Homo sapiens: one gene and its partner. The protein of the gene in region 2 purifies or fractionates together with the protein of the main gene of each other region. This does not show direct contact. Each region holds a gene or a part of one and is shown on either strand. Other genes may lie near its edges.

Region 1 (5,519 bases), on a different chromosome or scaffold from region 2:
GATCTGCTGAAGATGTGTGTGGTGAGAAGTGAACTGTGCACAAAGACTGAGCAGCGTTAGCAGAGGTGATGGGGTAAGGGGGAGGTGGGGAGCCAGAAAGGACCACAGAAACCCACGGACTGTGGAAACCCATAATTTGCAGGTATAGTAATAATATTCTACCTTAACAAGACCAAGGGACATCTCATAGCTTATTCAAATAACTAAACATACAACCTTTGGCCTTCTTAATTACTTCATACCACTAAACTGGCTCTCACAAACATTCCTAATAAAGACCATTAATTGCCCTAAAGGTAAAGTTCAGCAATGGGACCAGGGTTGCTCTTCTGCTTATAACTAGGATTTCATGACTGAGATAGGAACAGTACAGAATAAACCTACATGAGTAGTTATTCCTTAACAGCATGGAATATGCTTTGAGAAGGTACTTTTATGTGGTTTCCCTAACCATCACCTTACTGATCAACTCCAATACAAAGAGTCTACGCTTCTGGGTCACATGGCAACCGGTATGCCCAATACTAAACAATCAGGAATCCAAATGAACAAAAAAGGCAGTTCAATTTTGTAAGAAACAATATATTTTATTTTTCTGACACCACAGCTCTGGCGAGTGGTTTTGTACCAAATTTAATGGAGGTTACACAGAACGTCTTACGCATGGGAGGGGGAGGAAAGGGAAGGAACCACAAAATTTAAAACAAACAGAAACAAAATCCTGGATAGCTTTTAGCATCTGTTCCACTCCCACATTAATAAAATTCACTTGGGAATTCCTAATAAAAGGAGAACAGAAAACAAGGTGGGCAGGGAAGGGTATGATGGGAAAGAGAAAGACTTAGGGGGAAAAAAGACCAGAGAGCATCCCAAGGACAGACCTTTCCCTCTCAGAGCCAAGAGGACGCTCGGCATGGAAGGCGAGGCTTTGCTAGATTTATTTCCCCAAAATAACACTGTGTATTGCAGCTGCCAAAGGGAAAGAGAGAGGGAAGCAGAGGGTCACCAGCGGGGGGCACAAAGGAAGGAAACACTTAACTGAGGAGACAGAGCAAAATCGGAGAGAGAAAACAAGAGAAAAATGTGCCAGTGGGTTGGTATATTGGGAGACAAGACAGTGCTGAAGAGCACTTGAACTGAAAAACAAATGTCCTAAGAGTCATTATTTTTCAAAAGAAAAATCTCCCCCCTCCCCCCACCCCTCGCTGAACTTAGTTCCTTTTTTTGTGCTTTTCATTAATACTCTGCTCTGAGGTCGTAGTTTGGTTTTTCTATACACTGCAGTTGAAAGAAAATAGTCCAAAGGTCTGAAGATGGATTCTCCACCTAAAGTAAACAGCCCAGCATTCCTGTTCTCCTCTTGCCCCAAAGACTAAAGTCTCTGCTAAAATCCCTTTTACAATATAGTACAGTACACAGAAAAAAATAAAGCCCAAATCAAAAAAACAAAAACAGAAAAGAATCCTGGGAGAAGCCAGTCCAAAGGACGTAAACATACAGAGAACGGTGCAACACATGACCGATGGCAATTCTCAAAGCACAGCTACAGATTCCCAAAAGTAGGTGCCATCATTGATACCCAAGTCCACAAAAATAATTTTTAAAAAATAAATCTTAAAAAAAACACACCTGTTGATTAAATGAATAATTTGTTTTCAGGTAAATCCATACATTCTCGAGTTCCCCCCTCCCCCAAAGCAGCCCTCGGGTCTCTGTTCTCCTATTGCATGACCAATAGTAAGTACTCCTGGAACTCCCTCAAAGCAGCTCTCAGGACCTGGAATCTCATCTTGACAAGGATCGGCACATCCCATCTTAGCAGCTTAAAACATCATGTTTCCTGGGTTGCCAGGTCCTTGGCTAAATCCACCCATGCCCACGTCAGCAGCCATGCCCCGGGGCCTCATCTGTGGGGGGATCATGATGTTCTGTTGGGGTCCCATCATGCCCTGCATGGACATCATCATGCCTGGAGAGCCCACAGGCCCAGGGTGGGTGTAGAGCCCGGCAGGCCCCCGATCCTTGCCAGGAATCATGCCCACGGCAGCAGCTGGATTGCTCATCAGGGTGGGCTGGCCGGGCATTGTAGATTGTGCTGGTGACATCATCCGATGGTGAGGTCCCATCATGCCTTGTTGGAGAAAGGCTGGTGGTCTCATGGGGTTGTGGCCTGGCATGGATGGAGCTGTACCAAGAGGGATGTCCGGAGTTCCCACTGGCCCTGGACCTCCCATGCCAGGTAATGCTAGTCCCATTCTGGGGGCTTGTTCGCCCATCATCCCCTGCATGTGTGAAAACCCAGGTCCAGGACCCTGGGGCTGTTTACGGCCTGGAACTTCCCCTCGAGGGAAATATTGCAGCGTCTGGCTGGGCTTCTCAGATGGAATAATGCGGGATAGATCAAACTCAGGTATTCCGGTGGCTCCAGGTCGGATGACCTCCTGCAGATCTGGGTCTGTAAACACCGAAGGCATGCTGTTCCCCAGGACAGTGAAGGAGTCAGGACCCCCGGGGCCTCCAGGCTTGCAAAGTGCTGCATCTGCTGAACTTTGGGGCAGGTTGCTGGGGCGGCCAAGGGGGCCTTCTCCTGGGAAACCCATCCCTCCTGGGAAGCTGCCCTGCCCCCCACTGGGGCCATTGTGAGGGAATGGAACCTGCTGTGGGGGAGACTGTACTGGAGGGAAGCCCTGGGGGAAGCCCATCCGTCCTTGAGGTACCATCGGTGGCTCCTGGGACCCATGCCCCATGATAGGATTGTGTGACATCAAGCCAGGCCCCATTGGGACCCCATGAGGAGGTATGTTGGGTCCCACGGCATTTGGAGAGGGCATCTGATTGGAGTGAGAAAGTGGCTGGGTCATTCCCATTGGGCTGAGGGTTGGCATCGGAACCACGGGGTTTGGACCTGAAATTCGAGGATTCTGTGTATTAATGCCCATTCCTAGAAAAATAAAGATATCAAAGGAATCAACTTAACCAAAAATCAACTCAGAAAAACTATAATAAATTAACAAAAAAACTATTGTGCATCCAATGTGCATAGTATAATGCTGGGAAAACATACAACACACAATCCCTGCCATCAATAAGATCATAATACATCTGGGGACATACAAACCAAGAGCTCTACAGGACAATATATTATTGAGTCTTAAACTGTGTGTAGAAGATAGCAAGGGAGAAATTGTCATGTGTGAAAAGTTATAAATTAGCACACAAATGAGTTTCGCCTTCCTCATTGGAGATATTTAATACAGAAGAAAACAATTTGCCTGAATGACTCAAGTACGGTCCTTTTGGAGAAATCAGTACTACAATCCCAATGATCAGGAATCATAACAAAGAAACTAAACAGGTAATTTTTCAATTGGCATTTGGCATTATTTTATAAGTGCCTTATAGAGAAAGCATTTAAAACTCGAGATTCCACGAAATGTTCAAGAAATAACTTTTAATAGAAAAGGAAAGTAACATATTCTAATACAGTCCCTGGGACATTGAAGTATTTGGTGTCTCTGTTGGAATTACCACCGAGTGTGGCAGGGGGCTTATGCTGTTCCTGGTACATGTACTAACCCAGTTAATTAGAGTTACTGATAAATAAAGAGCATTTGTAACAATCAGAATAGAACTGGAACCAGAAACTCATGGCTGAAAAGTCATGGTCTCTTTGCTGATTGCTTTCACCATCCTGATCATTTTCTGTTAGTCAGGTGGCAGGAGTCGAGGTGAGGGGTGGGTATAGGAATGAAGGTGTACCGAATGTGTAGGGAAGGGAAGGATTTTATTATCTCCCTAGTCCTAAAAAAAAAAAGGCTTGTCTAGGAAACAGGGGCTTTCCACTGTCTGAAATCCTGTGGCTGCTTGTGGTTTGAGGCTGCTCTTCCAGAAAAAAAAACTTGAGGACTAAAGACATTCCAATCAGCCTGTTAGAAACTACTCTCTATATTGCTACATGAGGACCCAAAGAGAAAAACAAAAACAACAAACCCTCAAAACCATCCAGGTACACAGAAGCATCAGAACTATAAAGAAACCTGCTTTCTTACAAACAAATAAGGAATCAAGCTAATAAGAAATTATCTTCCTCTAGTCAAGACACTTTCATTCTACTGAAACTACCTTAGATGGAAGATTTTTTCTACTTGTTGAACTTCCACCTATTCAGGTGTATAGCCATTGAGAAAACGCTTCAAGAGGTTTCTCTTTGGTCTAGCACTCACTCCACAACCTGCCTTTCTGATTTCTTACCTGGCATATTATTCATTGATGGCAAGTTGGGAGAACGAGCTGGAGGGGAGTCGTCATCTGAGCTGGCCACAGTCTTGATAGCATCATGGTATAACGGGGTGGAACTGGGCATTGCAAACTTGGACATTCGAGACATCATAATAGAGAGTGGGTTCTGGGAAAGGGTTGGCTCTGGAGGCATGGTATAAGGTGTACTAGAGGGAAGACTTCCAGGGATATTCACAGAGGCAGGCTGGCTGGCTGTAGGAGGTGGGGGGCCACCTAAAAGGAAGCAAAATAAAACAAAACGGGCAGGGAATTAGATTCCTTTTGAAGGGTATTGGGCCCTATGATTATGAACTAGCAAGGCCAGGAATGAGACAGATGAACAGGACAGTGTTATTAGATCCCAGACACAAATCATCAATCTTCTAGTCAAGCTCTGTGTGAGTGCAGAGGGAGACTGTGGTGTGATATGGAGGTGACATGACCGATCAGCAGATGTGAAGACAAACACACCAGGAATGTGTTAGAAATATTAGTTCAAGCTTGGGGAAAATATGGTTTACAGACAACCATTTCACTGAATAGAATGTGAAATAAGTGGATCTCTTTCCCTTGCCAATCACAGTTTAGAATTCGACTCAGGTATTAGTATGCTATGAAGCCAGACTAGTGATATGATCCCAGGTACTAACGACATCACCCTACACGCATTCTTGATTAATTTCCACAACCAAGATGTTTGAACCAAGAAGGTCTGAGGGGGCTGTTCCACTGTACTGCTTCAGTGAACTGCTACCCTACAGAGAGGCACTTTAGGCTGGTAGGATAAATCTTCTATCTTGCTCTGATTCTAGTCTTTCTCAGGTGGAGACAGCACCAACCTAGTATTTACACCTTGGCACTACTTCCACTGACCACCTCTAGTCCCACTCACAAAACCATCATCATCAGCAAGAATCTCTCCCAGGAAGAAAATCCTCCTAAATTGTAGCTGATCTGTGAAAACAGTGGTCTATCAAGGAGAAGATTTTGGAACTGTTTCTGTGGTCAACAGGTATTTACAAGAACCACACAAGTCTTACAGCAGCTTCCCCTCTCTCTGCTTAGGATTATACCCAGAATCTCGATTCAAGGGCAGCCCCTTGCAGTGGGTCCAGTATTTAAAGAAGCCACATTCATCCACTGTTAAGACATTTTATTGCATTTGTTCATTGTGCGAATGTAAATTATTCTGTGAACCCAACACATATTCCCCATTTCCCCTCTTCCTTTTAACAGTCTCT
Region 2 (3,506 bases):
TCCACTCCGGGGACAGCGCGGGGCACGGCCCGTCACGGCCGCCCGCTCTGGCCGGGGTTGGCCTCACTGCTGTGCTGCAGGGCCAGGGGCAGCGCGCGGGGCTTCGAGCCTCACCCAGGGCCGCGGACCGCTGGGGAAGGAAGCGCCGGGAGGGCCCGCGGCGCCGAGCGAGAGTGGGGCTCGGGGCTCGGCAGGCGCCAGGCCAAGGCTGGTTCCGGGAGCGGGGCGCGCCCTCGCCCGCATAACCCTAGGCCGGAGTCCGCCGCTCAACCGCCACAAGTGCCGCAGGTTTCCCGCCCAAACGGGTCCCGCCTCCTGCCCGCGGGCCTGGGCCGCCAGGTGCCCAGGGGTCGCCAATGGGGCGCTCCTGCTTCTGGGAGGGCCCTCAGCGCGCATGCGCCCAGCCCCACCCCCTCGGCCGCGCCCAATCCCCACCGGGCCCGCCCCGCCCGCAGCACGCGGAGCCCCGGCAGCCGACGCCAGCCTGACCCCTGAACTGGCCTCCGCCGGCCCTCCCGCCGCGCCAACAGCACAGAGGAGTGGCGTCGCCCCGGGTTATTATTTTTTATTAAGATCAAAATACAAGTCCCACTATGAACTGGCTGTTCTCACAATAAATAACAATAACTTACGTTTGTTTGTTCGGCAAAGGCTCACATACTCTGTCCTCCGTCGAATAACTTAAACACTTTCAAGGCAAGTCTGGTTTCTACTGTTTCCCAGCAATCATGCGCTTTGGGAGTTTGAGTGTCTGTTCCTCTGAGTTATCCCCTTCCTTTTCCCCGCTAGGAGCCCGGGCGAAGCCGCCAGGGAGCGCTGAGCTGGGGCAGGGCGGGGGTCCGCGTGGGCGAGCTCCGGGCCGGCCGAGATGGGGACACAGGTGGGGCGTGGAGAGACAGAGCGGCGGCCACGTAGAGAGGAGAGGAGAGGGCAGAGCTAACCCTGGTAAGTCCCAGATTCTGGTTTTGAAAAACTAAGAGTCCTCGGAGCAGGGGTCTGCAGTCTGGTGAAAGCAGGTTGCATCCTGGCGCCTTGGGCTGTCCAGACCGTGTCTCTCGGTACTCTCTCATAAATAACAATAGAATAATTACGAAGGCGAGAGAGCTTTCGGAACTGGAATGGCCTGAGCATGGGTGAGTCTCATGCAGGGAGCATGCGAGGTCCGCGGGCTGGCAGGGAGGGGTCCCCCTCACGTCTCCACGGGACTCGGCACCATACTGTTGGGGGTGTCCGGGAGCTGCGAGGACAGGGAGGTCACGTCGCTGCCGGAGGAGTTGCCTAGGGAGCCGGACTCGGAGAAGGAGACCTGGGGCGGCGGAAACACCGGGAAGAGGCAGGTGAAGAGGCACGCGAGCTGGTGCTCCAGGGCCGCGTGCTCCGAGTCGGAAAGTGTCCCTTGGGGACCGGCCGCCAGCTGAGAGCAAGCCCTGCGGAGAAGGAGGCCAGGTCCCCAGGCGCACGAGGGGGGGATTAGGGCGGGGGAGCGGGTTGGTTAATCCTGCGACCTCTCTTGTGAGCACTTTAATCCAGGGAGACCTGGTTTAGGGCGCGTAATGGGCCGAGGTGAGGTTTCAGAGCCCGCCACTGTTCCCCCTCCCCCACCGCCTAGGGCTGTACCCAGCCCCTCAGCCCAAGGCCACCCCCTCCCCTCTCTGCCAGGCTAAGTGGCTAAATCCCCAACCCGCAGAGTCCCGAGGTCGGGGCGGGTAGGGCAGGGCCTCACCAGCTGTTGGAAGGCGGGTTGGTCCAGGTCGCTCTGGAGGGCAAACTCGCTGAGCGCCTTCCACGGCGGCTGGTACGTCTGCACCTCCACTGCGCTGCCCTGCACGGCGTTCTCATGGCGGATGGGACTGCCCGCCACCAGGGGCGTCCCAGTCAGTCCCTGAAGGCTCTGCGGGGCAAGCAGAAGGCAGTAGGTGCTCGAGTTAGGTCTGGCCTTTTCTGCCACCTTTGAGACTGGAGCTCCAGGCCTTGAGTGATTTAGGGTCTGCATTGCTTTGCGGGGAGGCGCACACTCGATCGCATCGGAAGAGCCCTCTTTCTCCACTGGGGATCTGCGGGGGCCGCAAACTTGCCACGATAGGTCAGCCTCGGTGCTGGAAGCCAACCGCCCGGTGAGGAAAGGCAAGACCTGCACTCCCACCTTTCTGCAGCTGCCGACGGAGTGCACAACCCACCAGCCCGACTGGCGGGCGCTGCACACTGCCATGCAGCCTTGGGCTCCGCGCAGCGCCCGGAACCCGCAACGCGGGGCTGCCACTGGGACAAGGAGAAACCCCGATCCCAGACAAAATAGGAAGCCTCAAATCCAAGGGAAGCCTTGCTGTGAAGGTACAGACATACACCATCTGGAGCGCCCAGTTCTCCCTGGATCTCCCAGGGCTCGCCCAGAAAAGGGCACGCAGATACCGCGGCGGAAGCGCAGCCCCCACCCGACTCGAGCCTCCGGCCCAGCGGCTGCTCACCGTCTTGTCGCTGTGCTGCTGCTGCTGCAGCTGCTTCATGAGAATGGATTTCTTCTTGTCCTTGCAGCGCTTGTTCTGGAACCAGACGCGGATGACCCGCGGGCTCAGGCCGGTCATCTCCACCAGCTGCTCCTTCATGAGAGCGTCGGGCCGCGGGTTGGCGGCGTAGCAGGTCCGCAGAGTGTGCAGCTGCTTCTCGTTCAGCACAGTCCGCACGCGGGTCGTCTTCTCCGTCTGCTTGTGCACGTGCGGGCGCAACGCGGGCTGCCGGCCCGACCCAGCGTCTGCCAGGACAGGGTGAGGCCAGAGGTTAGCGAGGGGCCGCCACCCACCCGCCCCGAGCCCAACCTCCGGGTGGCCCAGCCCCCCGGGGCCCGATTTCGTTTCTGTTTTATTCTGTTTGTTTCGTTTAATTGTTCGTCTTCCTCTCCATCTGTTCGCCTTACTCGGAGAGAGCTGTGCATTTTCGTTCTTTCTCTCGCTCCCGGGCCGGACTGCCCCGCAGCGATCTCTCCCGAGCTCAAGCAGGGCGCGGGAGCTCGGCGACAGGCCGCTGCGGGGAGGGAGTGGCTGCTCAGGGATGTGCCTCCTCCAGTCGCAGGACCCTCGGAACGAGCGAAGCCCTCCGGAAGAAGTCGGAGTTTCAGAGGAAGAGGAAAGAGGCTTGCCCAGGACTCTGGAGAGGGAAAGGGACCGACGTGGACCCAGGGCGAGGCGCTGCCCAGGGGACTGGGTGGGAGGTGCGAATATGCCGGGGGCCTACGAGGGCCCTTCCCCTCCTTCAGAGCCCATTTGGACAGGGCCAGGCCACATGTGTAGAAGACTCATCCACGGTTATGGACGGGCCTCCAGGGCTTGCAACAGTTCCTTCCTGCCCGCCCTTGGGCTTCGGCCCCTGTCTCCTTCCTCAAGGCTCCAGGTTCCCCAGCCCAGTGGCCTCCCACCGACCAAGGTGCTGAGCAGCCGCTGGCACTCTCCTCGCTTGGCCCCAGGTTCTCTCCATCCCGGGGAAACAGTGACTGATTCCAGAGCCTGCACCCT

The links.
Region 1: the proteins of ISL2 (region 2) and BCL9 purify together in Homo sapiens (affinity purification with mass spectrometry; 2 studies listed by BioGRID and IntAct, with this or other methods). This does not show direct contact.

What each region holds. Positions count from the first base shown.
Region 1 is NC_000001.11:147,621,264-147,626,782, reverse strand, and holds the end of BCL9 (B-cell CLL/lymphoma 9 protein), read right to left. Parts: intron 4,513-5,519; coding exon 4,252-4,512; intron 2,942-4,251; coding exon 1,824-2,941; 3' UTR 567-1,823; downstream 1-566. UniProt on the Homo sapiens protein: Involved in signal transduction through the Wnt pathway. Promotes beta-catenin's transcriptional activity.
Region 2 is NC_000015.10:76,339,519-76,343,024, reverse strand, and holds the end of ISL2 (insulin gene enhancer protein ISL-2), read right to left. Parts: intron 2,750-3,506; coding exon 2,466-2,749; intron 1,892-2,465; coding exon 1,724-1,891; intron 1,307-1,723; coding exon 1,190-1,306; 3' UTR 550-1,189; downstream 1-549. Other genes in the region: uncharacterized protein LOC124903532, read left to right, coding at 1-245. UniProt on the Homo sapiens protein: Transcriptional factor that defines subclasses of motoneurons that segregate into columns in the spinal cord and select distinct axon pathways.